Homo sapiens: one gene and its partners. The protein of the gene in region 2 purifies or fractionates together with the protein of the main gene of each other region. This does not show direct contact. Each region holds a gene or a part of one and is shown on either strand. Other genes may lie near its edges. The genes, in order: FAT1, DKKL1, ITGA8 and CELSR2.

Region 1 (7,995 bases), on a different chromosome or scaffold from region 2:
CAATACAATTGTCACTAGCCACACATGGTCACTGAAACTCGGAATGCAGCTGGTGAGACTCAGGAAGTGCCTTTTAATTTAGTTTAACTGGAAGTAGCCACAGGGGGCAAGTGGCTGCCCACTACATTAGCACAGCTCTAGAGGTTCTGTTAAAAGTTTTCTGCCCATCTCACTTTGAAAACCAGCTATTTTGACTAATATCATCAATTGTTATTCATAAGTTCCTGTCATTTGTGATTTTTATCTTTTTTAAGTAATTTGGTTTATTTATTACAACTTTAAAGTGAGTATAGCAAACCAAATGGACTTCAGCGAGAAGCCTCTCGGGGTGAATTTATTGTGAATCATTTTGAGGACTTGCAATATGTGGTCAATTTCTAATTTCAACTATTGACACAAAAGGAGAGAGCCTGTGTAGTTGAAACAGGGAAGCAGGAGAAGTCCGCTGGGCACTGACAGACTGGCCTCTCAAGCCAGCCTCCTCCCTCCTTAGGAATCTGGCACCCTCTAGCTGCCCTCGGGGTCTGCAGGAGCTCTAAAATCCCTTCCTATATCCCTCCGTGTCCTAGCTCCCTGGATCCTCTCCTCCCTTCCAAATCAAAATGTACCTTGAGGGAGAGGCTTGGGCAGGAGGATCTCTTGAGCCCAGGAGACCTGACTTGAGTCTGGAGACCTGCCTGGCAGAATCTCCAATCAGTGGTGATGATGCTGATTTTATGGATTAAAAACTGAGACACTGCCAAGAAGTGAGGGAAGGGAGCGGGGGAGGGCAGGAAAACTAATATTGTTTAAGTACCTACTATGTGCGTGCTAGACACTTCATATGATGCTCAGTAAAAATGCTTTGCCTGCATGAATAACTGTTATCTCCCTGGCAAGTAGAGTGCAGTATGTTTTTTTTTTGAATGGATAAACACATGAATACATTTTTACCACATGAAGCAGATATTAGTCCCATATCACAGATGAGGACACTGACATTTAGACAAGTTATGACTTCAAGGCTAAACACACACAACATTCCAATCACCTAATCTTGTTCTCTCCTTACTGTTTAGCTCCCTGCCCAGTTTCCTCTGTGCTCAGAATTTTGCTCTTGACCTTTGTAAAAGAACGACCAGCTAAACTGATCAACATATTTATACCAACGGATGCAAATATGATAGAACCGCCCCCAGCCCCCTTTTGCAAGGATCTTGAATGTTAATGACAATCTTCTGGGGACAATGTCAACTCACAGAAATGGCTCCCTCGGAATTTCACGCTGTTCGGGGAGGTATTTTGGTACTTTAGTGGCATTAAAAATATATTCCACAGCAGATATTTTCCTGGAGGCTGGACACTTACATAAAGACGACGCATTCTTTATAAATTAAACCTCAACAGTGTTTGCATTTATCTAAATGGATATTATTTCGAGGAGGAGACAGTGATTTGCGTATTAGCCCCTATCACTAGGGATGACTTGTAAGACACATTAGGAACTGGCTCCTCCCCTATCCCTTCGCCCCCTCCTCTCAGAACCTTATAAGCTTCAGAGTACGGTCAAGACAAGAGGAGCATTGGGAAAGAATTTGAAAATAAAAATACAGCTCCGTGATTTTCAACACAAAGACCACGAAGAGCATAATAATAAGTCGTGAAAAAAAATTCACATCCAGAAGTTGGAGGGCCACAAAGTACAAGTCGTCCAGGCCAGTCTGCAGAGACTGTTCATGCTTCCGCCCAGCAAAAATCTGGCAGGCGACACATCGCGACGAATTTCGGCTGCAGAAGAGGAAGAGCATCACCTGCAGTCCGCGGCGTGGGAAACGCCGCCGGAGGGGCTCCGCGAGCCGGGGAAGTGCGCGCAGCGGGGCTCCAGGCGGCTCCAGGCGCTGAGTGCGAGGAACGCCCGCGCTCGCCGGCGCCCGGGAGACGCAGCCGAAGGAGGAGGGCGGGCGTTTCACCCGCGCCACAGCTGCGGCCGGCCAGAGAGACCGCAGAGGCCGGGACCCCCGCAGCCTCCACGGCCGCTGCTGCCACTGTCGGGGTGGCGCGCCCAGCCGGAGAATCCCGTCCGCGCCCGGGGCGGGGGGCGAGGCGGGGCGCTGACGTCACCTCCCCTCCCCCACCGCCTCCAAGGGGGAGGGAGTGGGGAAAGAGGCAGCGAGTCGCCGCAGCCGGCGGCCGCAACTCCTCAACTCGGCGGCTGGCTGCCTGGGCACGTCCTGACAAACTTGGCTGCTCCCGGGCCCTCGTTCCGGCCCCGCGCACTCTCTTTTCGCCTGCGTTTGGTGCTTAAGTTTGCCCTGGTCGGAAGCCTCCGGAGATGCGGCCGCCTGGGTCCCGGCGGCACGGACGTTGGCACTCTGGTTAGGGACATGCTGAAGATCCCGGGGAGGCAAAGTTGGTACTTCAAACCCGGCTCTTAACACATATCTACACCGCGAGGGGATCACGGAGCTGCCGAGGACTTTAGAGCCCAGGGCCGAGGACTCGGCTAGACTGGTGAGTTCTTTGTTCAAATCGTGCATGCCTTTTGGCATTTAAGTTTAAACGTTAATGAAATTACGTGGGGTGTGTGGCTCTAAGCGAGTGCGGGGAAGCGTGTGCGCCCTACGGGTTCTCGGCTCCAGGAGCTGCGCATCCCTCTGGCTTTGTGCGGATCGGCGATGAAAGATTCGTATGCATAGCTTTGGGAGTTCATAAAATACATATAGAGCACTGTTAAAAAGAACTTGAGAGGCGATGCTGTTTGTGCATTATTTTGAATGTAACTTATTATAGCAATGGTGCCTAGGGAGGGCGCATCGGGGCCGCGAGATTTGCAGGGGCGCAGCGCCCTCTAGTCCGGGCACCTGGCGAGGCGCGCTCCTTGCAGGGTTCTGTGCGGAGGCGAACCTGGACCTCCCCGGCGCTCGGCGACGTGGGCGCTTGCTCACCCCAGTCTTCACTGACCACCCACCCGGGCCCATTCTTTATATGAGTTACAAAAATCAGCTTGGGTGGACTGGATGTAGAGGCCGTGCTGGAGGAAAGCGTTTTGTTTCTGGAACCGTCTCCCCAACCCCCTCCCTAATTTCCACGAGCCTTTGGGGACAGGGTTAGGGAGGGTCGATTATTTAAAGGACAAATGTGGAACTTGAACCACATTTCTCTCTCTCATATAAAATAATTCGATTTGTGGTAGCTAATAGGCATGTCCATTTCGTTCTGTTGGCGCTTAAGGATCAGTAGAATCGTGGCAGAGTCCTAAGTCTGAAATCTCCATCCCTGGCTCTCGGCGGCTCCTGTGGCGACGAAGTGCAACTTCTTCCAGGCAGATAGATTTCTCAGGGAGCCTGGAAAATCGGGATTCCCAGACAGATGTAAAACATCTAGTAAGCCCTAGGAAGCGTTATTACTTATTAATTAATGGTAATCTTCTCCAGGAATTCTCTTGTGCCATTTAAAAAAAATCCCGTGATTTTACGTCAGGGAATGGTATCTTTGTACTTTTTTTACTGTTCTTCTTTTCCCCTTTTAGCATTACTCCCGCTTCCTCGCTCCCAGGAAACGGCTGGAGTTCCGGTGTGTTTGGGTTTTGCTGAGATTTACAATTCGGCAAGCGGCACAAGCCGGTTGGGCTTGGAGATCAGGTCACCCACTTTCGAGGTGTTCCATGTATGAAATTGACCTGTAAGCACTTGGAGCAATTATGGCCGGGACAAACACGTCTTTGGATGATGGAGTTTGCATTTGCTGGATGTGTGAATCTATGTGTATTCCAACTGGTGGGCAGGGAATATAGGGCTACGAATCGGCACACTCATCTTGCAGGCATTATTTTTCCTTCCCAGCCACAACCTGCTAGACACCTTTATTATTATTATTTTTTCCGGTCACCTCTAAGATGGCTTATAAGGTGACTGCGTTAACTTTGAACCCAGGAAATTCTCTTTCACACTTGACTGCCCTGCCGTTCCCCTCCCCGCCAAGCTCCCCTCACCAGTCCCAGGGAAATCGGATCTCTTTGTCTTCCCAGTGTTAAAATGCCTGAGTCCCACAAACTTTCCGAGATCAAGTCCGCCCTCTTGTCCGGGCTGCGTCCCAGCGCCTCCGGCCCTCCGGGCTTCGGCCGAGTCCGCCCTGCGCCGAGCCTGCGGCTGGAGCCCTGCCCGCACCGGGGATGGGCTCCGCGCCCGGGACGCTCAGGCTGGGCGCCCGGCGCGGGGAGTTCTCGGAGCGGGCTTCTCGGCGCTGGGGCTTCCCCTCTGCCTAGGAACTTGCAGTTGTCGGCCTGGGGTCACGCTTTGGGGCCCCTGGGGCCGACTCCCGGGCTAGGAAGCCCGCGGGACGCCGCGACTGCCTTTTGTCCCACAGGCCTGGGCGTCCGGGGTGTCAGCGGGGGAGGCCAGGCGCCCGCGGCGGGGAGGGCCTGGGGTCTAACTCGGCAGAAAAAGGTCGCGGGGGAAGCGTTTCCATTTTCTGGGGATTGAAGGAGGAAGTAGATTCCGACCTAGCTGCATTCCTTTGGAGACCTGAAGGACGACTTCAGCCCACCAAACCTTCGCGGACCCAGAGCCGCGCCATTCAAATGCAGATTCAGGGGCTCCCAGAAGGCTATGGAAAAGCTAAAGGGATGCCTCTGGGAAGCTTTCTCATTAGGCCCCAGCCTTTTTTTTTTTTTTTTTTTTTTAGCTAAGCTAACGTTTCCCTTTCTTGGCAGGGAGCTTTCCCCAATTCCTTGCACAGCGCCTGTGGCTGGCCGTAACTAACCTCGGCATCACAAGCCTCGCCCTGCCCCTCGGAGCCGCGCTAGACCCCGCTGGGCGCCTTCTCGTCTCCCAGCACGGACCTGGTGTTCGCAGGGACTGGGGCTCTTTGGGTCCGGGCGGGACTGCGTGGCCGAGCCCGCGGTCCCAGAGCCGGCAGCCGGGGAAAGTGGGCTCGAGTTTCCGCGCCCGAGAAATGAGCGCCGGCGCCGGCGGGCGGGGCCGGGGCGGAGGGATCTCCTGCGCTCGGGGAGCGTGAGGCGCCGGCGCCGAGCTGGGCGGCCGGGCGCGGGGAGAGGGCGCGGGAGCGGCTCGTGCGGCAGGTACCATGCGGACGCGCGAGCCCGGCGAGGGCCCCGGCAGGCCCGGTCCCTGCTCGGGGGCGCGCTGAGACGGCGGGTGAGCTCCACGAGAGCGCCGTCGCCACTTCGGGCCAACTTTGCGGTTAGTTCGCTGGGGCGCGGGCCGGCGGGCGGGGGCGAGAGCGTGCAGCGCGCTGCGGTGCGGACTCTGTGGGTGTCCGCCCGGTCCCCGGCTCGGGCTCCGGCGCTGCCGAAAACGGATGAGCGCGCGACTTCCCGGAGGGTGGAGTGACTCGGTCCTTCCCAGTTGGGAAATTCAGCACTGGCTAGGGGGGTCCCGGCGGCGGAGCGGGAAAAGGAGGCGACCGCGCGGGACCGATCCGGGGCCATTGCTGGGGTCCGATCCTTTCTGACACGCCGCCTTCCCTCCGGGAGCTCGCCGGGCTGCGCCGGCCTCGCGGTCTCCTGGGGCATCCCGCCGTCTGCGAAAGACCCGCTCGCTGAGCGGTGCACGCGGGAGGCCTGCGCGGGGCTGCCGGGTCCCTGGGTCTCTGGGTGTTTGCGCCCTGCAGGAGCGCTGCCCGGAGGTGCAGATGCAACCGGTGGACTGCGGAGTGAAGGGCTGCGAGGCTGCATTTCGGGGCTGAACATCTGCACAATGTGCGGTTTGTCAGTGTTTTCTGTCTTCTCTGGAGGAGGAACTTCTAAGATCTTTTTAAAAGAAAGAGTTTTTGGTCCTTCATTGCCTTTAAAAAAAAATGCTTTCTTTTAGAGAGCCAGCTTTCTGCTGTGTGTTAGATTTTTTTGTTCCCGCTGATGTGAATTGCAAGGCTTTGGAAACAAGGACGCAATTGTATGAGTTAGGAAAGTAAACTCATAAATATTTTCTATGCAGTTAAGTTTTTTTTTTTGTCTGAACTGTGGTTTCATTAAGTGGCTTTTGTTAAGCAATTCCCGGGTGCCTGATAGAGGCGATTTTTTAAAAGTGGATATTAACAGTGATTATTAGTATGAGAAAAGATTGAAAAGAAAATGACCTTCAGATATTCATTTCCTTTTCAAAAGCAGATTCTTAATGCTTCGTATATTCAGATACAGGTTTCGATAGTTTAAGAAGGTATCTGTGTGTGAGAACTAGGTAATGGTGATGTTTTTCACACTATTCTTAATGAGTTTGGTTATGCTGTCCAACACATCCAGTTGTTACAGGGACGTTTGAAAAGGTGTTTCTCCAGTTAATAGTTAATTGTGATATTTGTCTTTGTCTTTTTGTCTTAGGAAGACAGCTCTGATTCCACAGTTAGAATTATTCCTTTGTATTTAAGATGTAAAAATACTTAAAGCACTATGTAATTTTTTAAAACAACAATTGGTATAAGCCTTGAGTGATGCTAAACATGGCATTTAACAAGCTCAAGGTAAGGTTTGATTTGAATGAAGTTTGCATTTGTATAACCATTTTTTGAAAAATGAACACCTTAAATGAGCCAAATTCTTTGGCACTCTGGAAAGAAGTGTGGTTGTTAGAGGACTTTATAAAATCATTTCGGGCCACCTGTATATTCATTTGTCTCTTTTGAAGTATCCCCGTTGGGTTCTCATCATGTTAGTAGATCATTTAAATCCATGGTCCGGACAGGTGCCAACAGAAAAATGTTTAAAAATTATGGCCGGGCGTAGTGCCTCACGCCTGTAAACCCAGCCCTATGGGAGGTCGAGGCGGGCGGATCACCGGAGGTCGGGGGTCCGAGACCAACCTGACCAACATGGAGAAACCCCGTCTCTACTAAAAATACAAAATTAGCGGAGTGTGGTGGTGCATGCCTGTAATCCCAGCTACTTGGGAGGCTGAGGCAGGAGAATCGCTTCAACCCGGGAGGCGGAGGTTGTGGTAAGCCGAGATCGTGCCATTGCAATTCAGCCTGGGGAAAAAAAAGAAAAGAAAAAGAAGAGAAGAAAAATCTTTAAAAATTATGCACAAACTAATTCTGTTTTCATTCCCCTGATCATCCTCTACCTTTCCATTGCCTTTAGACTTTGCTTTGAGGTCCCTTTGAAGCAGTCGTTTCTTTGAATGTTAGAGGTGGATAGGATCTTAGAGATTATGTTTTAACACTTTACCCGCTTGCTTTCCACCCAAGTTTGGCTGATTTTACGTAGAATCAATCAGCCAAATCAAATTAGTACATTATTATTGCATTAGATTCTGTCTCAGTGGCATAATTTGTAGCCTAAAGGACCTGATTTAATAGCAGGGAGCCGTAAGGCTGGATGTGCTGTTTAATCTTTATGAGTGGGATTTGCGCTAGATAATTGTTCTTTTGACCAAATTATGTAGAAGTTGAAGCCAAACTCTATCTTTTGGTCTCACTTAATTGTTCAGTTTGCAAGTGCTTATTTATCCTTAGACACTGGAGAAGAGTTTTTGAAATGAGTGATATACATCAGTTAAGATCAGGAAGTTGCCATTTTCTCATACCTGAGGGGAACTTTTCATTTCAAAAATATATTCTGATGAGGAATCTGCATATTTCACTCTTTTAAGTTTTTTAAGTCATCTTTTACTGTAAGTCCCAGATTTAAATACATTGCCTGAATTCTTGCTTAATTCCAAGGGTTCATTATGTATGTGAAGATAAGTCTATAAAGTAAAAATAATAAAGGCTTCTATACACTGCTTAGGAAATATTAGTCATGATTTAATCTGTATCCTTCATAGAATATTAAGGTTAGAGCTTTGTGATAATCTGCAACACAGACACTGATCTGGCATTATCTATAGCCAATTTTGAGGCAGCGTAAGGTGGGTGGTGACCTCTTTCTGAGCTATTGGAAATGAGTCCTCTACAGAGCAGCCACCTGCAGTGTTGTTACCAGCCTCGTGGTTGTGCCTGGATTTTCTGTTAATTTGAGAAGGATGGATGTTTTATTTTCCTATGTTATCCCTCTCTATATCC
Region 2 (7,929 bases):
GCCAGGCACAGTAGCTCACGCCTGTAATCCCAGCAATCCCAGCACTTTGGGGGGCTGAGGTGAGTGGATCACCTGAGGTCAGGAGTTCGAGACCAGCCTGGACAACATGGTGAAACCCCATCTCTACTAAAAATACAAAATTACCCAGGCATGGTAGTGCATGTCTGTAATCCCTGCTACTCGGGAGGCTGAGACAGGAGAATTGCTTGAACCCGGGAGGCAGAGGTTGCAGTGAGCCAAGATCGCGCCACTGCACTCCGGCCTGGGCAACAGAGCTAGACTCCATTTCAAAAAATAAACAAATACATAAATAACCCAGCCTCGGGTAATTCTTTATAGCAATACAAACGGACTAACACACATGCCGAGAAGACAGATGAACGCACAGGAAGCAGCTTCTTCCTTGAACCTGAACCTGCCCATGCGAGGATGACCCTAAGAAGACCGGCCCATCCCAGACAGAAGCCCACAAGTCCATTCCGAGACCTGTTTTCGAGTTCGGGTCTTCCCCGTTCTCAGCTTGATGTAGCGGGCGATCAGTTCATTCCGACCTGAAGATTCAAAGACGGAACAGAGTTAGTTAGACTTTCAACAGAACTTCCCCACAGCATGGACACCAGGGAAGAAGAAAGCAGCATGGGTCCCCAAAGGTCTGCAGCAAGTGGGCTGCCGGTCCCCTCAGCTACGTGGAAGCCAGACTGCTTGGGTTCAAATCCCAGCTCCATCACGCACTGGCTCTGTGCGACCATAAGCAAATCACTTAACCTAGCTGTGCCTCAGTTTCCTCATCTGTGCAAATGGTGATGCTAGCTCCTACTTCAGAGTGCTCCATAAACCTTGGTTACTGTCATTATTCATCAGTGGGGGCCAGGGCAAAAGACAGAAGTAGACTCACCATACATCTTGCCTTCATCAGACAAAATTATTTTCCGGCGGCCGCAGGGTGGATAGATGGCCAGGGCCTCCTGGAAGCTCTGCTCAATGTCTGGGCTCCACACCCCCTCTGCATCCGGGCCCCCGTCACCCCCAGCCCCCTCACTGCCGCCGGTACCCTCCTCACTGCCTTCCTCACTGCCCGTCCAGCCGCTGCCATCGTCCAGGGCGGCCCCAGCCCGGGGTTCCCCCATCTGGGCCTGGAGGAACACAGAACTCAGCAAGCTTCCCCCAAACCCCACCCTCAAGGGACTTGAAGCTGAGAGGGCTGGGACTCTGGACCACTGGGTCTGAGGGAGGAGGGGCTGGGGACCTGGACTCCTGGGTCTGAGGGAAGAGGAGCTGGGGGGTATTCCTGGGTCTGAGGGAGGAGGATCTGGGGCCTGAACTCCTGAGTCTGAGGGAGGAGGGGCTGGGGCCCGGACTCCTAGGACTGAGGGAGGAGGATCTGGGGCCTGGACTCCTGGGTCTGAGGGAGCGGGGGCTGGAGGCCTGGACTCCTGGGTGTGAGGGAGAAGGGGCTGGGGTCTGGACTCCTGAGTCTGAGGGAGGAGAAGGAGCTGGATTTCTTGGAAAGCTGAGGATGGGAGTGTTCTCAGAGTTTCCAGAGGAACTCAATTGTGATGAAGTCACAATGATTACCCTAGAGTAATGCCGAGGGCCATGAAGGCTAAAGGTTCGGGTATGAATTACGGGTTTTAAAGAAGACAGGAGGCAAAAGTTAGTGGTGGGGAAGGAAGGTGTGGGTGAAACTTCCCCTGTCCCACCCCAAGAACAGGTGGTAAGATGTGAGCAGCAGCTGCCAGAAAAGAAGAGGGGCCAAGCAAGACTGAGGGGAGGTCTAGAGAGAGGGGGACAGAGACCCAGAGAGGGAGGGGGACAGAGACCCAGAGAGGGGATGGGGACAGAGACCAGCAAGGGGGGGGGACAGAGACCCAGAGAGAGAAGGGGACAGAGACCAGAGAGAGAGGGGGACAGAGACCAGTGAGGTGGGGATAGAGACCCAGAGACAGAGGGGGACAGAGACCAGAGAGAGAAGGGGACAGAGACCCAGTGAAGGGGGGGACAGAGACCAGTGACGGAGGGGACAGAGACCCAGAGAGAGAGGGGGACAGAGACCAGAGGGAGGGGGGGACAGAGACCAGAGGGAGGGGGGGACAGAGACCAGAGAGGGGGACAGAGACCCAGAGAGAGGGACAGAGACCCAAAAAGAGAGGGAGACAGAGACCCAGGGAGAGGGGGAGACAGAGACCAGAAAGAGGGGGACAGAGACCGGGGGGGGGGGACAGGGACCAGAGAGAGGGGTCCAGAGGCCCAGAGAGGGAGACAGAGACCCAGAGAGAGAGGGTGACAGAGACCCAGAGAGAGGGGGACAGAGACCCAGAGAGAGAGGGACAGAGACCCAGAGAGAGAGGGGACCAGAGACCCAGAGAGAGGGGGACACAGACTCAGAGAGAGGGGGACAGAGGCTCAGAGAGAGGGCAACAGAGACCCAGAGAAAGGGAGACGGAGACCTAGAAAGGGCAGGGACAGAGACTCAGGGCAGCAGCTGAGGCCGAGACCAGGAGAGACCCACAGAACCACAAGCTGGGGGACAGGGGCGCCCTGCCATCAGAAGAGCCAGAACAAAGGGCCCAGGCGTCCCCTCCCCCAGCTTCCCACAACCCCCATCAGGGGAGGGGCTTGCCGGCCAGGGCGACTCCCCTCCGGCACCGGGCCCCGCCCCTCCCCTCCCCCGTGCGCCGTGGGCTCTGATCCAACTCAAGTTCCCAGTGACTTTCCGGAGGCCGGGAACAGGGAAAACTTTTTCCAATACAGTCAGATCCCGCCTCCCCGGAGGCTCCATGTCCTCCACAGCTTTCCCAGGACCCCAGAGTCCAGGCCCCTATTCCCCTCCTCCCGCCGACCATAGCAGACAAAGACCCCAGCCAAGCCCAGTGGCGCTGCGGCGTTCAGGACCCCCGTAGGCCAAAATCCCAGCCCAGCCCTTCCCCATGTGGCCAGACAAAGGGACGGTGGAGCCGGGTAAGAAAGGTCCCCCTAATTTCCCGCCCCAGACCCTAAACCTCCAAAGAGGCAAGACTTAAGATCCAGAAAGCCCCGTAACCTCCCCTCGGCCACCCCAGAGGCCCTCCCTTCTCCGTAAGAAGGACCAAATGCCCCCCAGATTACACAAGGGGTCCTTCTCACTCCAAAGTGACACCGCCGCAGACGCACGCCCCACACCCCGCCAGCGCCCTTGGCCCGCACCCGCTCCTGCGCGCACGCCCAAACTCAGACCCAGCCGCAGGCACCCTAACTCCGGCCAGAGTTCCCACTCCTCACTGAGGCTCGGTCACGGGAGCAAATTCGGGCCCCCGGGCAAAAAGAGGGCTGCGAACCATTCAGAGACGGTCCCGCAAACGCACGCCTCACCTCCTAAGAAGCAACTCCCCACCCCAACTCACACACCCCAAAGCAGGATCCCCGACTCCCGCCGGCGCCTTCCTACCTCCCGGCCTGGGGCTGGGGAGCCGCGGGCGGGCGGGGCGCTGCGAGGGAGAAAGTTGCCGGGAGCTTTGTTTGGGAAAAGTGGGAGGGACCGGAGGGGGGGGCGGGCCCGGCCGGCGGACAGCGGGAAGGGGGATCCGACGGTGACAGTTTGGGGAAGGATTTTTGCTTTGGGAGAGATTAGTCTATCTCGGGGCTGGTAGGAACTCAGGATTTGGGTGCTTGGGAAAGGAGGGGGATTGGGGGTTCGGACTCCAAGTCGGAGGGAAAAGGCTGATAGGAGCCAGAAACCCCTGATCTGAGGGAGGAGAGGCTGGGGGCTGGGACTCCTGGGTCTGGGGGCTGGGACTCCTGGGTCTGGGAGAGGAAGCGGCTGGAGAGAGATATGGGCTCCTAGGTCTGAGAGGGGACGGGGCTAGGCGCCTGGAATCCCGGCTACCCTCGTGTTTGTGTATTGGGGGTGCGGAAGTGATACGAATACAAAGAGTCTTTACTGTTAAGCCCTGAGGTTTTTTTTCTTTTTTTCTGTTTGGTTTTTGGTTTTTTTGTTTTTTGTTTTTTTTGTTTTTTTTTTTTTTTGAGGATTGGGGTCTGGGGATGGGTTTTGACTGATTCCTATGACGACCTGGTTTCCTTGTGACCTCACCACAGTTAAGAGTCGTGGGCAGGACCACCGGGAGTTTATTGGAGGCCCACGTAGGTGCAGATTCCTCATCTACAGGCGCTAGTGGACTGGAGACGGCTGGCGGCTGTCCCGGGACGGGGAAGAGAGCTTTGGTGCCTGAGGGAAGATGGCTTAGGGCCCGGTCCCTTAAGGGTGAAAGGCTGCGTGTTCAAAATTACGGGACTAGAGGGGGCGGGAGTCCGGACCTGAGGTCCTCAGGGAAAAGGAAGTCTGATTCTGGGTTCCTTGGAAGATGAAATATAAGACTGGATTTAGGGTTTCCGGAGACAACGGGACTTTTTAGTGGAGCGGGAGCGGGAAAACCAGAAGGGACACGGAGAAAAGGTTCCGAAACAGATACACAATTAGAGTGAGAGCTAAAAGGGATGCTTGTACTCCGGTGTCTCCAGTAGGAGGAGCCTAGGACTGGAACTTGGGGTGATGAGGGCAAGATCTGGGACGCAGGGGCGTGGTCCAGTGCAGGGGCGTGGCCCAGTGCAGGGGCGTGGCTTTCAGCCAAGGGGCGTGGCCATTGCGATTGGGCGGGACTCCGAAACGAGGGCCGCAATCAGAGAACACCGCCAGGACTTCCAGGACTTGGTCTCCAGGACTGAGGTCAACTGACGTGGGCGTGGTCTGACTGTGTGGGCGTGGCCAGGGAATGAACTCACGGCTCTGGCTTAAGGGGTGTGGTGAACGAAGGATGGGGCGTGGCTGTGTCACCAAGGGCGTGGTCATGGAGTAGAGGCCCGGGCTCCTGGGTGAGGCCGGCAAGTTTGGAGCGTGGTCAGACAATAGGGGCGTGGCTACGGCTCGCGGAGCGCAACCAACGCTCTAGACCAGACCTGGGCTCGAGACCATAACTGTTTGGCTTTAACAGTACGTGGGCGGCCGGAATCCGGGAGTCCGGTGACCCGGGCTGTGGTCTAGCATAAAGGCGGAGCCCAGAAGAAGGGGCGGGGTATGGGAGAAGGTGAGGATTGAGATCTGGTGGTGAACGTGGGCGAAAGTGAGGAAAAGACCATTGGATGAGGCCGGGTGCTGTGGCTTACGCCTGCAATCCCAACACTTTGGGAGGCCCAGGTGGGCGGATCGCTTGAGATCAGGAGTTCGAGACCAGCCTGGGCAATATGTCGAAACCCTGTCTCTACAAAAAATACAAAAATTAGCCGGGCGTGGAGGCGCGCGCCTGTGGTCCCAGCTACTTCGGGGGGCTGAGGTGGGAGAATCACCTGAGCCCGGGGAGGTCGAGGCTGCAGTGAGCCGTGATTGTGCCACTGTACTCCAGCCTGGACTACAGAGTCTCGGTCTCAAAAAAAAAAAAAAAAAAGCATATGAGACAGAACCCAGAAGAGCCAGACCTGGGAGAAGACGGGGCCTGGCAAGGTGGAGGGTGTGGGAGTAGAAGAAAGAAGCAGTGGGGGAAATGAGCGCGGTGTGGGAGTTGCCTGAACTGGGGAGGCGACCTGGGCAAGGTGCTGGAGAGGGGCGTCTTGGGTGGGGGCGTGGCCACTGTGCGGGGCTCTGACCCCGACCCTTGCCACAGCCTCCCCACCTGCCCCCGCAAGGCGGCATCTGCTGGTCCTGCTGCTGCTCCTCTCTACCCTGGTGATCCCCTCCGCTGCAGCTCCTATCCATGATGCTGACGCCCAAGAGAGCTCCTTGGGTCTCACAGGCCTCCAGAGCCTACTCCAAGGCTTCAGCCGACTTTTCCTGAAAGTAAGCGATGGCGGGGGGATGGGGGAAGAAGTACTGAGAAGAGGTTCAGGGACACAGAGTGGGAGATGGTTCAGGGCCAGGCAGGGGGACAGACAGGATGAGAGGGCAACAGGGAGACCAAGAGATAGGAAGAGGGAAGGGACTGGGCCCAGGCTATAATCACAGCACTTTGGGAGGCTGAGGCAGAAGGATCATTGGAGCCCAGTACTTGGAGACCAGCCTGGGTAACATAGTGAGACCCTCATCTGTACAAAAAAATATAAAAAATAGTTGCAGGTACATGCGCCTATAATCCCAGCTGCTTGGGAGGCTGAGGCAGAAGGATCCCTTGAGCCCAGGAGGTCGAGGCTGCAGTAAGCCATGATAGCACCACTGCACTCCAGCCTGGATGACAGAACAAGGAGACCCTGTCTCTAAACAAATAAATATATACGTGCATAAATAAGAGAGGAAAGGTAACAGGCAAAGAGAGAGGAGATGGGACAGAGACAAGAGACTGGGGAAAGAGACAGGAGGAGAGGGGGATGGGGACAGAAGAGGAACAGGGATAGTAAGGCAATGGGACTGAGAATAGAGAGAGAATTCATGGGGGATGGAGGCCGGAGGTTAGGCCCTAAGTATCAGAGGGCAGAAAGTAAAGGGGATGGGAGGGACTTGGGGCAAGGCCTCGGGAGCATCCTAGCAGGGCTGCAGAAGGGGCTGTACTGAGGAGATGTGAGGTCCAGCAGCTCACCAGTCCCTCCTCCGGCCCCAGGGTAACCTGCTTCGGGGCATAGACAGCTTATTCTCTGCCCCCATGGACTTCCGGGGCCTCCCTGGGAACTACCACAAAGAGGAGAACCAGGAGCACCAGCTGGGGAACAACACCCTCTCCAGCCACCTCCAGATCGACAAGGTGCCTATGCAGGGAAGCCCTTCCTGAAGTCCCCTTGGGATCCCTCCATCCCGCCATCCCTCGTGCTGCAGTATCTGTTGGGAGGGAAGGAGGGCGGAGGAGGAAAGCAGGTTTGCTCTCACTCTCTCATCGGATCCTCACAGATGACCGACAACAAGACAGGAGAGGTGCTGATCTCCGAGAATGTGGTGGCATCCATTCAACCAGCGGAGGGGAGCTTCGAGGGTGATTTGAAGGTTAGGACGTGCCCCGCCGTCAAAGTGTCCAGGCCCAAACATTTTCTTTTTTTCTTTTTTAAAGAAGAGTCTCACTCTGTCACCCAGGCTGGAGTGCAGTGGCACGATCTTGGCTCACTGCAACCTCCGCCTCCGAAGTTCAGGCAATTCTCCTGCCTCAAGCTCCTTGGTAGCTGGGATTACAGGCACCTGCCACCACGCCCGGCTAATTTTTTGTATTTTTTTAGTAGAGACAGGGTTTCTCCATGTTGGTCAGGCTGGTCTTGAACTCCTGACCTCAAGTGATCTGCCCATCTTGGCCTTCCAAAGTGCTGGGATTACAGGCATGAGCCACCATGCCTGGTGAGGCCCTAACATTTTCTGTAGTTTAGGAGGACAAGAAGAGGAACTGACCCTCTTACTCCTCTGTGTGGAACTTCCTCCTTCTGAGCCTCAGTTTTGCCATCTCTCAAGTGGGGCAATCCAACTGTCAGAAATGAGATTTTTGACCTCAGAATACATCTGCAAGGGTTTAGTAGACCCTAGAGGGTTTTGTATCAAAGTGGTTTTCTTTTTTTTTTTTAACTACATAATAGTCAATCAAAGTGTTTCTATGAGCACCAAAATGTTTTATAAACCAAGAAGGGTTTTTAATTCTAAGTGCTTGGAAAGCTTCACCCTCATAAACCCCAAATTGTGTTTTTGTCTCAAAGTAAGTGCTCTGCAAACTTCAGAGTATTTTTCAATCTATCCCAAAGTGGTTGGTAAACCTCTCCATTATAAACTCCAAAATGTTTTTGTTGTTATTGTGGTTTTGATTTTTGGGGTTTTTTTTGTTTGTTTTTTTGGTTTTTTTTTTTGAGAATGGAGTCTTGCTCTGTTATCCAGGCTGGAGTACAGTGGCACAATCTCAGCTCACTGCAACCTCCAACTCCCAGACTCAAATGATCCTCCCACCTCAGCCTCCGGAATAGCTGGAACTACAGGCGCGGACCACCACACCCAGCTAATTT
Region 3 (7,888 bases), on a different chromosome or scaffold from region 2:
GAAATTCACCCTCCAGGGACCGAATAGAAAATTTGCAGACATAAGCTGATGTCAGCAGAGACACCTGACACATTTAAAAGTCTTTTCCCCTCAGTAAGTTTAACCATCCAGTTTCTACTAATCAGTTGTTTCTAATATTGCAGGAAAGCTGAGTTCAGTTGGGCAGAAAAAAAATCTGACATAACCTCAATTATCCATTTTCTAAGTAGAGACTGAAAAGCTACCTTCCATTCCTGGTGCATTGATTTTTAAAGCTGATGGAGCCTCCGAGCACACATTGCATTCACACTGGCTTATTCTGTAAATAGTTTAAAATATTTGAAATGTGGTTCTATTAATGAAATAATTATATTGACACTTTCACACCTCTTGATTTTAAGGCATGATCATATCACATAAAGAAATAGATTGAAACACAATCAGAAATAATAATTGGTCATTAAGTTAGACATGTTTTTGATTGAAAAGTATGCACTAACTGGTTAAATGGTCTGGCATTTCTATTTTTAAGTACTTCGTACATGGCTACAACTCAGACATCATTTTTTTCCCCTGTGGTACTCTTTACTTGTTTATTTTTGGAAAGTTTGGGCCAAATCTGTTCCATCTTTGACCTTTGGGTTCTTTTCTTTTCTTTTTAGGGAAAGAACTATGTATACCTTTCCCAGTACGAAGCATACACATATGCTCACATGGATGATAAACAACTCGCAGACTTGCTTTTCTGACAAATAAATCAGTGCTGGTAGATCTTTAAAATGTCAAACTTCTCATTCAGCATGAGACCTGTCACTGTCCATGTGTTTTTTTGACGAGTCCCCAGATCTTACCAATTGGCATGGTTCCCGTATGTCAGAATGATGAAATGTACAAGACACCTATTCAGACTTATCCCTTCTCTACAATTATTGCAATTGGGTATTTTTTTTTTCCTGGCTTCTTGGAAGGTTTACTACTCTCCCAGGCTTTTGGCCTCCCAGGGAGGTCAAAGAGCTTGGAGTTAGTTTGCGTTCCCTCCAAAACACCAAGGTGCAGCCAAACCTTTTTCCACGACCTCTCGGAAAAGTACACAGCAGCTTTATGCCATCTCTCAAGGACTAATCATAGGCATGCCCAGAGGGCAGCCCAGAATAGCTTACTACCTCTAGAAAGGTGGCTTCTCATTATTATCATGGCTTTAAAACCTGATTCCTTATAGATCTAGTAGCATGAGGAACTGGTTTTGGCATTTGATAGGGTTAAAATAGTACGACTTACTTGCCCTGTAAACATGCATATTATTTTACCTCCCCAAACTTTAATGTCCTCATCTGTAAAGCAGAAAGTGACCATATTAAGAATATAGACTTATGTAAGTCAACAGCAAGTATGTTTTAGAACACAGAAATAAGAATATACCTAATTATGTGTCAGTAAACAGATTTTTTTTCCCTTATCTACTCTATTTTTGTTGTTGTTGTTTTGAGACAGAGTCTCACTCTGTCACCCAGGCTCGAGTGCACTGGCATGATCTCGGCTCGCTGCAACCTCCGTCTTCCAGATTCAAGCAATTCTCCTGTCTCAGCCTCCTGAGTAGCTGGAATTATAGGCATGTGCCACCACACCCAGATAATTTTTGTATTTTTAGTAGAGAGGGGATTTCACTATGTTGGCCAGGCCGGTCCCAAACTCCTGGCCTCAAGATGATCCACCAGCCTCTGCCTCCCAGAGTGCTGGGATTACAGGCATGAGCCACCATGCCCAGCCTCTCACTCTATTTTTGAACAAAAAGACTAAAAAGTTTAAGAAATATGCCAAGGAAGTAAGCAAGTGGGTACAACATGGGATACCCTGGTGATGTGCTTCTCTATGCAAATCAAAGCATTGTGTAATATATAGCTAGTTCCACCTAGTAAGTCAGCACACAGGTCAGGTGCATGTCTAGGATCATTCTATCACCTTCTGCCTATTTAGATGGTTCTCATCCATCTCAGGCTAGCTTGCAATAGGACAGATTTCCAAATTTCAGCATGCCAGTGTCAGGAAATGATTGAGTTGAGGTTATTTTTCTAACCTCAGTGTCCAACACAGTTGTCAGCATTCCTATTTGTATGCTGCCCATGAATTCCTCATTGAAAATTACTGAAGGGAACACCACTTTGATGAACAATAGTAACTTGATCAGAGTAGCAGACTCTGCGTTCAAAGCAAATGAACTTTTAAAATGAGAAGCAAGTCTTCTACCATCTACTCCTAAGTCTTTACCTGGGAAAGGAATACTCAGGAAATTATCCAGACGTGACAATTTGCCAGGGAAATTTTTGATAGCTTATTTATTTGTATTATTTTTACAGGGGCATGACAAGTAAAGATATAACATTCAGATCAGTCTACTGAGTGGGTTCTGATGTAAGGGAGACAAGAAGTCCAGCTTTTCAGTAAGTTCAGAGATTTTTTTCTCTGGATAGACCCTCAAATCAATGGACAGACTGACCACTCCCGAAACTGCCATCTACATTGCTAATCGCAGGCTAGTAACTCAAATCAGTGAGCCCAGCACCTAACTCACCTTCTACTTCCCCAATCTGCTGTCCTAGCCCACTGCTACCGTTCGCTATTCTTCTTTTCTAGGTTAATACCTTGAGACACCTTGAATTTTTTTTGAGATGGAGTCTCGCTCTGTTGCCCAGACTGGAGTGCAGTGGTGCAGTCTCGGCTGACTGCAATCTCGGCTGACTGCAAGCTCCGCTTCCTGGGTTCAAGGGATTCTCCTCCCTCAGCCTCCTGAGTACCTGAGTAGCTGGGATTACAGGCACATGCAACCACACCCAGCTTTTTTTTTTTTTTTTTTTTTTTTTTTTTAGTAGAGACGGAGTTTCACCATGTTGGTCAGGCTGGTCTCAACTCCTGACCCTGTGATTCTCCCGCCTCGGGCTCCCAAAGTGCTGGGATTACAGGCGTGAGCCACTGTGCCCAGCCTGTCCCTTTTCTTTAGCATTTGTGGCCCTCCCCTCCCTTCTGTTAACCAGCTTGAGGTCCTCGCCTCCCAGTGCATCTAGGCAACACCTACTTTGCTTTCCCTTCCTTCCAACAACTACCCCCCACTCCCCACCCCTAAACTTTTGGAGCCCCAGAAGGTATGTCCCGTCTCTGCTCTAGAACTGGCTCCCTTTGCCTCAATAAATGTTATTGTTATTAAGATCCTCTTCCTGAAGATCCAGTCAACCCTATTTCCCACCACTTCCTAACCCACCCCTTTTATTCCAATCCCATGCACAACCATTTAATCTCTGTCTTTTCTAAGTATTAATACCTTCCCTCAACTTCTCCCCCCACAGTGCCCAAATGTAAGCCCCGTATTCAAAATCCTACGTAAATGTACATCTGCCACCAAATCCTCTTACATGCTTCAGAAAAAACTTAGCTCTTCTGTCTCTAAACTTCATATCTGTTTAACCTCGGCTCCTTCCGGTTTCATGCTGACCTGTTTTGTTTAATGTTAACGAATGACCATATGTTATGTAAAGGGATCTATACTCCTTTCTCTTCTCTGTCCTCCCCTACTCAAGCCTCACGTCCTCTCCGACACAGGAGACATGGGAAGAGATTGACAACACCCACGGATCAGAACCGAAATCTGAACTCCTGTAGACTGTGAACTACACCTTCTACCCCCGCAGAAAGTAAACTGTAAATTCCAACATTCTTAACTGCGCCAAACTTCATCACAATTACACAGGATGGAGATTTACTACTAAGTCATTTAATATGCCCAAGATGCCTTTAAGAAAGATTTAAATAAAATCTCAAGGGCTGGGCAAGGCGGCTTACCCTGAAATCCCAGCACTGTGGGAGGCTTAGGTGGGAGGATCGCTTGAGTCCAGGAGTTCAAGACCATGTTGAACAACATGGTGAGACCCCCATCTCCTTAAAAAAAAAAAAAAAAAAAAAAAGAAGAAGAAGAAGAAGGAGAAAGAAAGAGAAACAAAGAAAGAAAAGAAATTTTAAAAGTCAACTCGAGGTGGCAGGACGGCTTGAGGCCAGGAGATCGAGACCAGCCTAGGCCACATGAGCAGACTCAGTGTCAACAAAAAAAAATTAGAAAATTAACCAGGTGTGATGTGTCATCTGCAGTACCAGCTAATCAGGAGGCTGAGGCAGGAGGATCGCTCGAGCCCAGGAGTTTGAGATTTCATTGATCTATGATAGCACCATTGCACTCCAGCTTGGGCGAGAGAGAGACCCTATCTCTAAAAAGAAAAAAAAAATAAATAAAACAAAGCAAACCAACCAAACAAACAAAAACAAAAAATTCACACATGCACACACACAGGCGCGCGCGCACACACACACACACACACAGACACCCAACAACAAAAACAAAAAAAAACCCTCGAGGCTTTCTTGTATATGAGTTAGCTCTGCCAGGAGGTGGGGTGGACTTAGGGGAGGAGAGGGTTGTTGCATTTCAACTTTAACTCTCATCACAGACGTGCAAAGCCGTGAACGCTGAGGTCAGGCTGCAGAGGTGATGAAGAGATAATTGCTTTGCCCCTCCTGGTGGTGGGGTTGGTTTTCACATTCTCCATCCAAGCTGCGCCTTTGACACAACTGGAGCAAGCTCTCGCTCCACCTGGGGCATTGCTTCTAAAGCAATAAATAGCTTGAGGTGACAGAGACGAAACTGATTGTCCTTGAGATGGGACTGCAATAGAAATCCGGGCAGCCCGAAGAGGCACCCAGCGCTCCAGCCACCAGCTGGGCCGCCCGGGAGTCCCTGGCTCTAGACCAGCCGCGAGGAGGCGCCGCGAGAGAGCTGGTCCCTGCCCGCGGCCGGAGGAGGGCTAGAGCCCCTGGGCCAGCCCCCCGAGCCGGCTGGGCGGGCGGGCGGGTGGGAGCAGACGCCGGGCACTGTCACCACGGGTGCGCCGAGCGCACCGACCCGGGACACGGGCAGCTGGGGACCGCCAGATTCCACCAGCCCCCCTTGCCCCGCAGGGGTCCTCGGCTCGCGCTCCTGGGTAGCAGCCACCCACCGGGGCGGAGGGAGATGTCGCCCGGGGCCAGCCGCGGTCCCCGGGGAAGCCAGGCGCCGCTGATCGCGCCCCTCTGCTGCGCCGCGGCCGCGCTGGGGATGTTGCTGTGGTCCCCCGCCTGTCAGGCGTTCAACCTGGACGTGGAAAAGCTCACAGTGTACAGCGGCCCCAAGGGCAGCTACTTCGGCTACGCCGTGGACTTCCACATACCCGACGCCCGCACGTAAGTCGCCCGACCCGGGGAGGTGCGCGCGGGGACGAAGGCGCTCCCGGGTCAGGTCCCAGCGGCTCTGCCGCGGAGTCCCCCCGCAGCCTGGGATCCCCGTCCTGCCGCCTGCCCGGGGTCCCGTCCCTCTCCCCGCCACCAGCCCCTTCTCTCCCCTGCCATGCTAGATGTGCCTTGTGAATTTTGAGCTAGAGACATGCCACTTGCATAGAACACGCAAGTCCTGGGTGTTCCAGGTACCAAGACGCACGCATCCTACAAAGGAGAGAACAGGACCCAGAAGACCCAAGCCAGTTAAAACCGCCACCACAGCGAGGTCTGTTTATGCAGAGTCTGTAACCATTGCGTCTGGGCGCAAGAGCTGTCGGCTACCAGCAGCTGGGCTCTGTCCTTGGCTTCCTCCTACCCCACCCCCTTCTCTCATCTCACTGTACCCACAGAGCTCCACCTAGAGAAGCAGGACCGTTTGCATTCTTGCAAACCAGGTTGCGGACCCCCGTTTCCAAGAGGAAATCAAGTTTGACAGTCGGTCCTCATCATAAATACGTTCATGCCCTCCACGCCTGCCCCAGTGTCCCCGGGCAGGAGGTTACAGAGACTGCATTGCATGCGCACGGTTTTGTGGCGCCCAAAGAGTGACTTTCTCCAACTCTTTTGCAGAGCGAGTGTCTTGGTGGGGGCGCCCAAAGCCAACACCAGCCAGCCCGATATCGTGGAAGGGGGAGCCGTCTATTACTGTCCTTGGCCCGCGGAGGGGTCTGCGCAGTGCAGGCAGATACCGTTTGACACCACCAGTAAGTGAGATTTGTCCTTCTAAGCTGTGGGCCTGGGTTTGGAAGAACCAGGGCCATCCCAGAGGCGACTTCCCGCTGTCTTGGTGTGCTGCTCGTTTAGCTTGTCTGATATGTCCGTATTGTGGGCTATGTGGGTCTCTAGAGAAATCAGTTTTTTCAACTCTCAGTTAACTGAAGGAAGACGTTTAGTGAACCCTAGAGAAAGGACACTATTTTGACCCTGAGTGTTCGGATGCATCCTGGCAACTCCTGTTTCTTTACCTTTCTGAGATGAGCATTTTCAGGGTGAGTGGATGTTTTGGAGAAATACAAAAACTATGTCCTAACTTTGACTGTGGAGAGAATTTGGTTGCTTCTCAAGGACAGATCTGGAAAAAGAGAGATCCTTAGCGTTTCCAGTGCCCAAGCTCGGGAGGCAGGACTTAGCTGCTGCAGACCCAGACATCACTCCGCGTTGCTGTTTAATTCTTTACAGAAAGAAAGAATTTTCTTTCAAAGTATTAGACATTGAATGCAAACTAGTGCAGGCAGAGTGTGGATGGATTACATTCATTTCCAAAATCCCTAGACAGATGTTTCTTATTTAATTAAAGGGAAAATACATTTTAAACAATTCAGTCTGGTTACGTTTCCTCTGGTGTTTTCTCTTTAGAGCCTGAGAAAATAATTTAAATGCGATGCTTTCAAAAACATTAACACCGAATGCTTTAATTTTTACCACCAAAACTTTATGAATTCAAAAGGTATATATTATCAGAAAGCAAATATCTCTTTCCAGAAAAATGCGAATATGTCAGCTTGAACAATGGTCCTTGATAAATAATCGTTTAAAATACCTTGTGTACCACACAACTATTTTATGACATACTTGATTTCTTTGATTTTTAATTGTTTGATTAGTGCGTATATGGAATTTATGCGGAATATTTTCACAGAATTTCGATGAAATTGGCTGGATGATGTTTACTTGTTACTATAATTTGTATCTTTTATGTTAAAGGAGAAAACAATTTCAGTTTCATAAATATGAAAATATTTCAAAGCAAAACAGACTATACAAGCATTACCTTGAATTATGACCAAATTAGGAAAGTATTTTATAAAAGCATTGGAAAATTATATTTTTATCATGCCTGTCTATATATGGTCACAATAGCTTATCATTTTATTAAATATTCTGTTATTTTATACCAGTTTTTATAAGCTTTTACTTTTAAATTTGAGTATTAGCAACCAGGAAGATTAAACCTTTTGATGTTAATTTGTGACAGAAATCTTTTAATTAGTTATTTTATCAAGACTTGAGACACTTTCTAGCTACTGCTCTCTAGTTTAAGAATAAGCTTCGTAAACCAAAAGAATTAAACATTTAAACACAAAATTAATGCCATTTTAATAATTCATATCCGAATCATTTGTATTTTTAAAAGTATTTTAAAGCAGGCCAAATAAAGACATGAATCATTAACATTATTTGAATTTACATTAAGGAAAGTATATTTTGAGACATGGTTGATGTGTTTTCACCAAGAAGCAATTTATGGTCGTGGAAAAGAATTTAATAATCTTCTTGTATAGTCTCATAACATCAAATCAGGATCTGATTAGTATTTTTTTCTTTTGATAAAGGAAGAATCAATGTCTGCCCTGATAAGTTACAACTGACTTACTTTGTAAGTACTCATCCCAATAGATGTCATAGGCCAACAGATTAAAAACCAGAGAATCCAGATGTCAACTATGAATTCAAAAAATAACTGACCACTCCTAACTGAAAATTTTCAATATTAAATTACAATAGGTAGGCCAGGCGTGGTGGCTTATGCCTGTAATTCCAGCACTTTGGGAGGCCG
Region 4 (7,016 bases), on a different chromosome or scaffold from region 2:
CCTGCGAGACTCCTACCAGGGCAGTGTCTATGAGGATGTGCCACCCTTCACTAGCGTCCTGCAGATCTCAGCCACTGATCGTGATTCTGGACTTAATGGCAGGGTCTTCTACACCTTCCAAGGAGGCGACGATGGAGACGGTGACTTTATTGTTGAGTCCACGTCAGGCATCGTGCGAACGCTACGGAGGCTGGATCGAGAGAACGTGGCCCAGTATGTCTTGCGGGCATATGCAGTGGACAAGGGGATGCCCCCAGCCCGCACACCTATGGAAGTGACAGTCACTGTGTTGGATGTGAATGACAATCCCCCTGTCTTTGAGCAGGATGAGTTTGATGTGTTTGTGGAAGAGAACAGCCCCATTGGGCTAGCCGTGGCCCGGGTCACAGCCACTGACCCCGATGAAGGCACCAATGCCCAGATTATGTACCAGATTGTGGAGGGCAACATCCCTGAGGTCTTTCAGCTGGACATCTTCTCCGGGGAGCTGACAGCCCTGGTAGACTTAGACTACGAGGACCGGCCTGAGTACGTCCTGGTCATCCAGGCCACGTCAGCTCCTCTGGTGAGCCGGGCTACAGTCCACGTCCGCCTCCTTGACCGCAATGACAACCCACCAGTGCTGGGCAACTTTGAGATCCTTTTCAACAACTATGTCACCAATCGCTCAAGCAGCTTCCCTGGGGGTGCCATTGGCCGAGTACCTGCCCATGACCCTGATATCTCAGATAGTCTGACTTACAGCTTTGAGCGGGGAAATGAACTCAGCCTGGTCCTGCTCAATGCCTCCACGGGTGAGCTGAAGCTAAGCCGCGCACTGGACAACAACCGGCCTCTGGAGGCCATCATGAGCGTGCTGGTGTCAGGTAAGGAAGGGCCCAGGTGGCGCTGGGGTGGGGGTAGCTCGCGGGGATGGTCTGGGCAGCCACTGGAGGTAGGGTGCGATCCAGGAAGCAGCTACAGATCCACCTCCCTGCCCAGTGCCTGGCACAGAGCAGGAGGGGCAAGAGCCAGCTTGGGAAGAAGCCCCAGGAACCCTGGCGGCTGGTGCAGGCCCCACCTTCTGCTGGGCTGGGCTGGGCTGCTTCGGTTGGCTGCCCCCACTGTCTACCAGCCTGTGACGTGGTCGGGGAAGTGTTGTGAGGCTGCCCCGGCTATGGCTGCCAAGAATTGTGAAAAAAGGCGCGTGGAAGCCTGGGGGGCCAGGAGAGCTGGGGGAAGGGCAGAGAGGACTGTGGCGCAGGAGAGGAGGCGAGGCCAGGGCCCCTTCACCCCCATCAAGATATTCCTGCAGTCTCACACAGCCTTTGGCAGAGCTGGGGACCACGGGAGCACAGGGCTGCCGCCACCCAGGGGTCAGGACCCTGTAGTCCTCTTCTGGCCCCTTTTGCCTCCTGGCTGAGCTGCAGAATCGGCTGACAGGGACTTTGTCTAGCGCATTCTTTTCCCTCCAGGCAGAAAGAGCCTGGCCTGGCTCCCCCTTCAGAGCTCCCACAGGAAGTGAGGCCAGAGCTCATTGTCTGTCCAAACAGACCCCACTTTCAGAGTCCGTGGTTCGGGTCTGGCTTGGAGGAGGGGCTGCAATGAAGCTGGGGGGCAGGCTGAGGCCTCGTGGGCCCCCCTTGCCACCTCATGGGCTGTTCTTAGGGTGCCAGGCCTTCCTTTCCTGCTAGCTGTGACCAGCCCAAGCTCCAGGAATGGAGTGTAGGGACCAGGACAGGCCAGTGGACTGGTGAGCTTTGAGGGCAGAGACCCCAAGGCACCTTATCTGAGGAGAGAACAGAGTCCCAGGGCGTGGGAGCCTGGCCGGAACCCAGGCTGGGGCATTCCTGCTGCTTGGCCAAGCACTCAGCCTACAGACTCCCTGGACAGCAGGGCTGGGGGAGGAGAGTTGGAGGGGGTTGGTGACAGTATTCTGTCTTTTTTTATCAGCTGTGGGGAGCCAGAGGTAGCAGCAGGGAGAAGACCACACCCAAGTTGCTGAGTGCCTTCCCCAAGCCTGGGAACAACTGAGACCCTCATGAGGGGATGCTGTTAGCTGCACCCCAGGGGTGGATCAGGTCACATCCCCTCTAGGCAGCCTTCAAATCCATCAGGGAAGGGAGGAAAAGAAGAGGCTGGCAGGCCCCTACTCCCACCCCAGGGAGTGTGGCCTGAAGGGGAAGGAGGGGTATGCCAGAGTCAGGGCGTGGCCTCACTCAGGGTCCTTGCTGGACAGATGCCTCCCTGCCCCACCCTTCAAAGTAGCCACAGGAACCAGGAAGCAGGAGCTTTTCAGGGACTGTGGCTGAGGTTCTGAGCCTCCTGAGACTTCAGTTTCCCCTCCAGGAGGCGGAAGAGGGAGGCTGGAGCTCCTGTGTCCTCAACTGTGCCTGGGCACTTGAGACAAGTGGGAAGGAGGTGGGAAGGAGGGCCTCTCCCTCTGGTCCTCCACACCCAGCCTGCCTTTGGTGAGCGTGGCCAGGCACTGGCAGAGAAGCGCCCCCATTAAGCCTTCGGTCTCCCACCAGGGCAGAGCCCTAGACCTTGGTTCCCTAGTCTAGAGAAGGCTCGGGGCAACATCCAGGACGGCTCCTCCTGGCCCGGCAGCTCTGGCCCCACCCTCTCCCTTCGGCCCTGACCCTTGGAGGCAGTCACCACGGCAACCCCAAAGTTCAGGGAGGCCGGGGTGAGGGGGAGCTGACTCCCACTGCCCCTTTGTTTTCCTCCTCTTGTTCTTTGTCTCTTCTTTCTTTCCCGCCCCTGCCCATGCGGAGCCCTGCAGCACTGCCTCTCTCCGGTGCCCTCTCCCTGCTCCTGCGGCTCTCCGGCTCTCCCACTTGCCCATTGCTGGCTCCTCTCCTGAGGCTTTGTCTTCCCCTGTTTGGTCTCCGTGTTTGTGCCTCCACTCTCTTCCCTATGGCTGCAGCTGCCCCAGCCTGGGCCGATGGCTCCCCTGGAGGCTGAATTCTCCTCGCCTCTTTCTTCCTCTGCTCAGACACGCAGCAGCTCCTGTCCATGGTCTGGGCAGCTCCCAGAACAGCAGAGCCCTCTTGGCCTCCAGTCTCCGCTGGCACATCTGCCAGGGGAAGAGAGGCTGGGAGGCTGACCGGGACCTGGCACTTTTCCAGGTGTGCCTGGCTAAGCTTGGGACACAGGTGGCATTTCCTGGGGTCAGAGGCCATCCCAGCTGTTCCTTTTCTGTCCAGGAAGACAGCTCAGGCAACGTACTCCCCACCCCTGTTCCCATCCTGCCTTTGCACCTGAGGGGTGACCTAGGTCAAGGCAGGGGAGGGTGATATAGAAAGGAGAGAGCAGTGGGTTGACTGTTGGGGATGGGGGACAACAGCAGAGGGGGCAGGTGGCCACAGATGGTGGACCAGATGGGAAGCAACAGAGACATGCTGGGAGAGGGGCCCAGGCGGGGCCTAAGACGATGGCGGTGGGGGACACAGGGAGAAGTGTTTGTTCCCAGGGCTGAGGGGTGGCAAAGTTTCTCCCGCTCCATGGCCTTGGTTGCCCCCTCTCCTCTCTTAATCAGTTATGGGCACTGTGTGTGGAGTCTTGGGCTGCTTTCTGCCTGGAGGGAATATCCCGTCAAGGAATCATTAGGCAGATATACCAGGTATACAAGAGCTCTGTGCCAGCTGAGCATCCTGGTGCGGGGAAGTCTGAAACGGAGAGGAAAGTAGAGCCTGATGACATAAATCTGGGCAGGCTTCCTGGAGCAGGTGAGCTAGGGCAGGTTAGAAGACTCAGAGGACTGTGGGCTGGTGTCTGGGTGGGAAGGAACAGCCTGTGCAGCAGCTTTGAGACGAGAGCAGGAGGAACAGAAGTGGGTGATGACAAGCAGGCTTGCTGGTGAGAGCTAGTGAGAATAAGCAAGTGATGAGGCTGGAGGGTAGGTGGGCAGTCGGCTGAGGACATGGCTGAGATGGGGGTCTGCTTTCAGCCTTCCCGGCTTCAGCTGAGCCACCGCTGGTACAGTCAGCCACCGCAAGTAGGTACAACACAGATGCAGAATTTGTTCCCATGTCCCTTGCCTACTCCCACCCCACCCCAGAAACATGGGCTCCTGCCCCGTTACTGCTAGGGTAAGCATTTGCTTTTTATATCTAGTTGGGCTCCCCCTGCTATGTGGTTTTGTTTGTTTGTTTGGGACAGAGTCTCACTCTGTCACCCAGGCTGGAGTACAATGGCGCGATCTCGGCTCACTGCAACCTCTGCCTCCTGGGTTCAAGCAATTCTCCTGCCTCAGCCTCCTGAGTATCTGGGACCTCCTGAGTAGCTGAGATTACAGGCACCCACCACCACGCCCAACTAATTTTTGTATTTTTAGTAGAGACGGGGTTTCACCATGTTGGTCAGTCTGATCTCGAACTCCTGACCTCGTGATCCACCCGCCTCAGCCTCCCAAAGTTCTGGGACTACAGGCGTGAGCCACTGCGCCCGGCCCCCTGCTATGTTTTAAAGTCCGTTTATTCTTTGTGGAGACTGAATAGATTGTCATCCACATCTCAGTGTTTTCTGAACACCTACTATGTGTAAGGCATTGTAATAAATACAAATATGAATATGCCAGTAGCTCATGCCTGTAATCCCAGTGCTCTAGAAGGCTGAGATGGAGGATCACTTGAGGCCAGGAATTTGAGACCAGCCTGGACAACACAGCAAGACCCCATCTCTACACACAAACAAAAATTAGCCAGGCATAGTTGTGAGCACCTGTGGTCTCAGCTATTTGGGAGGTTGAGGTGGGAGGATCGCTTGAGCCCAGGAGTTCGAGGCTACAGTGAGCTATGATCGTGCCACTGCTCTCCAGTGTAGGCGACAGAGAGTCTGTCTCTTAAAAAAAAAAAAAAAAAGACTATCCCTTCTTGCCCTGTAAAGCCATTTCCTCCTTCTCCAGGCCCCAGCTTTCATTTTTTAGCTAAATAAAATTCATTCCCATGTGTATGTGCATTCAGGTGTGTATGGTATTTCTGGGCTTAGGGTGTGTGGGTGGAATGAGACACCAGCAAGTGTGTTTTAGTGCTTAGCTGTTTATAAGTGAGTGTGTTGCCTGGGGGCATAGCAGGCATTTGGGTGTAATGGTTGAGCCAAGTGGGTGATGAGTAGCTAGAGGCCCTAGGACCAGAGAAGAGACTGACTCAGTGGGGCTCTGGGGTCTCAGAGTGGAGAGCTGCCCAGGCCCTTCTATCTCTGCCTTCCGGTCCCCCACCCCGACTCACCCTGTCTCCAGCATGGGGCAGTGGGTGATGATGTCACTGGTTAACGTGGCTCAGCTGGATTTCCTGGGGTGGGGCCCCCCAGGCTACCCACAGCAGCCCAGAGAGTTGGGCGGGAAGAATGCTTTGTGTTGGATGTTGCCATGGGGATAGCAGGTCTGCGCGCCCAAGCAGCCATGGGGCTCAGTGGGAGGGGGACTAGGTGGCCCACTGACCCAGTTTACCCACTCCCCCCCACCCCCGCCAACTCCCTGCTGCTGTGGGGGAGTGGGGAACACAGCCATGGTTGCGATTATCGTGGTGTTGAGGTGTAGAGGCTGAGGGGGCAGGGGGATGATTTTTGTGGGTCTCAGGATGCTCTGGGCCCTGTAGAAAAGTATGAAAAAGACAACATAGGGTTCCCGCGCAGGCAGCACAGACTCTGGGGGAAGGGAGCAGGAGCGGTGGCTTGGGCAGGGAAAGGTGCACAAACATTAAGAGGTGTGCCGTGCATCAGCGACAGAAGGTTTTGGGAAAGGATGCAAAGAGAACTGCAAATCTCATCCCCTGAGCCCTGAAGGAGTGATTGGCCCACACGTGACATACCTGGCTCAGCACCCTTATGCCAGTTGGAAAGGAGAGCCTTTCTTGGTGGGTGGTGCAGGAATATGCAGGCTGAATTGCAGCCCCAGGCTGGGTCCTGACTGTGTCCCTCTCCACAGACGGCGTACACAGCGTGACCGCCCAGTGCGCGCTGCGTGTGACCATCATCACCGATGAGATGCTCACCCACAGCATCACGCTGCGCCTGGAGGACATGTCACCCGAGCGCTTCCTGTCACCACTGCTAGGCCTCTTCATCCAGGCGGTGGCCGCCACGCTGGCCACGCCACCGGACCACGTGGTGGTCTTCAACGTACAGCGGGACACCGACGCCCCCGGGGGCCACATCCTCAACGTGAGCCTGTCGGTGGGCCAGCCGCCAGGGCCCGGGGGCGGGCCGCCCTTCCTGCCCTCTGAGGACCTGCAGGAGCGCCTATACCTCAACCGCAGCCTGCTGACGGCCATCTCGGCACAGCGCGTGCTGCCCTTCGACGACAACATCTGCCTGCGGGAGCCCTGCGAGAACTACATGCGCTGCGTGTCGGTGCTGCGCTTCGACTCCTCCGCGCCCTTCATCGCCTCCTCCTCCGTGCTCTTCCGGCCCATCCACCCCGTCGGAGGGCTGCGCTGCCGCTGCCCGCCCGGCTTCACGGGTGACTACTGCGAGACCGAGGTGGACCTCTGCTACTCGCGGCCCTGTGGCCCCCACGGGCGCTGCCGCAGCCGCGAGGGCGGCTACACCTGCCTCTGTCGTGATGGCTACACGGGTGAGCCAAGGGAGGGGACTCATGGGCCAGCCCTGGAAGGCTGACTGTGTGGTGCAGGCACAAATCAGGACAAATGCTGGCGGCTGCCTCATTCTCTTCCCGAGTGAGGTGCAGCTACACTGAGAGGTCATAAATCCGGCCTGCTCCCTGACAGCACCCCACTGAGGAAGGCAGTGCAAGGAGTGCTTCTCCCTGCTGTGCACAGGACACACAGGCAGTGCCATTGTGGGCAGAGCTGGCTCCAGAGCCAGTCGGCCTGTGTTCGTGTATCAGCTTTGCCGCTAGTAGCTGTGTGACCTTGAACAAGTTACTTAACCTTTCTGGCCCTCGGTTATTTGAAATGGAGATAATGACCGTACTTAGGTCATAAGTTGGTTGTGAGGATTAATGTAATTAATTTGATACTTGGAAACAGCTGGTGGCATGGAAGGTGTTGGCCTTGATTTAAGGGAACGCTGAG

The links.
Region 1: the proteins of DKKL1 (region 2) and FAT1 purify together in Homo sapiens (co-immunoprecipitation; 3 studies listed by BioGRID and IntAct, with this or other methods). This does not show direct contact.
Region 3: the proteins of DKKL1 (region 2) and ITGA8 purify together in Homo sapiens (affinity purification with mass spectrometry; 2 studies listed by BioGRID and IntAct, with this or other methods). This does not show direct contact.
Region 4: the proteins of DKKL1 (region 2) and CELSR2 purify together in Homo sapiens (co-immunoprecipitation; 3 studies listed by BioGRID and IntAct, with this or other methods). This does not show direct contact.

The regions. Positions count from the first base shown.
Region 1 is NC_000004.12:186,720,849-186,728,843, reverse strand, and holds the start of FAT1 (protocadherin Fat 1 isoform 1 precursor), read left to right. Parts: upstream 1-4,987; 5' UTR 4,988-5,180; intron 5,181-7,995.
Region 2 is NC_000019.10:49,358,949-49,366,877, forward strand, and holds the start of DKKL1 (dickkopf-like protein 1 isoform 1 precursor), read left to right. Parts: upstream 1-4,928; 5' UTR 4,929-5,050; coding exon 5,051-5,060; intron 5,061-5,085; exon of another isoform or gene 5,086-5,115; coding exon of another isoform or gene 5,116-5,170; intron 5,171-5,633; coding exon 5,634-5,806; intron 5,807-6,560; coding exon 6,561-6,701; intron 6,702-6,844; coding exon 6,845-6,937; intron 6,938-7,929. Other genes in the region: TEAD2 (transcriptional enhancer factor TEF-4), read right to left, coding at 487-551, 896-1,127. UniProt on the Homo sapiens protein: Involved in fertilization by facilitating sperm penetration of the zona pellucida. May promote spermatocyte apoptosis, thereby limiting sperm production. In adults, may reduce testosterone synthesis in Leydig cells.
Region 3 is NC_000010.11:15,716,913-15,724,800, reverse strand, and holds the start of ITGA8 (integrin alpha-8 isoform 1 preproprotein), read left to right. Parts: upstream 1-4,878; 5' UTR 4,879-5,029; coding exon 5,030-5,238; intron 5,239-5,901; coding exon 5,902-6,035; intron 6,036-7,888. UniProt on the Homo sapiens protein: Integrin alpha-8/beta-1 functions in the genesis of kidney and probably of other organs by regulating the recruitment of mesenchymal cells into epithelial structures.
Region 4 is NC_000001.11:109,252,524-109,259,539, forward strand, and holds part of CELSR2 (cadherin EGF LAG seven-pass G-type receptor 2 precursor), read left to right. Parts: coding exon 1-866; intron 867-5,908; coding exon 5,909-6,556; intron 6,557-7,016. UniProt on the Homo sapiens protein: Receptor that may have an important role in cell/cell signaling during nervous system formation.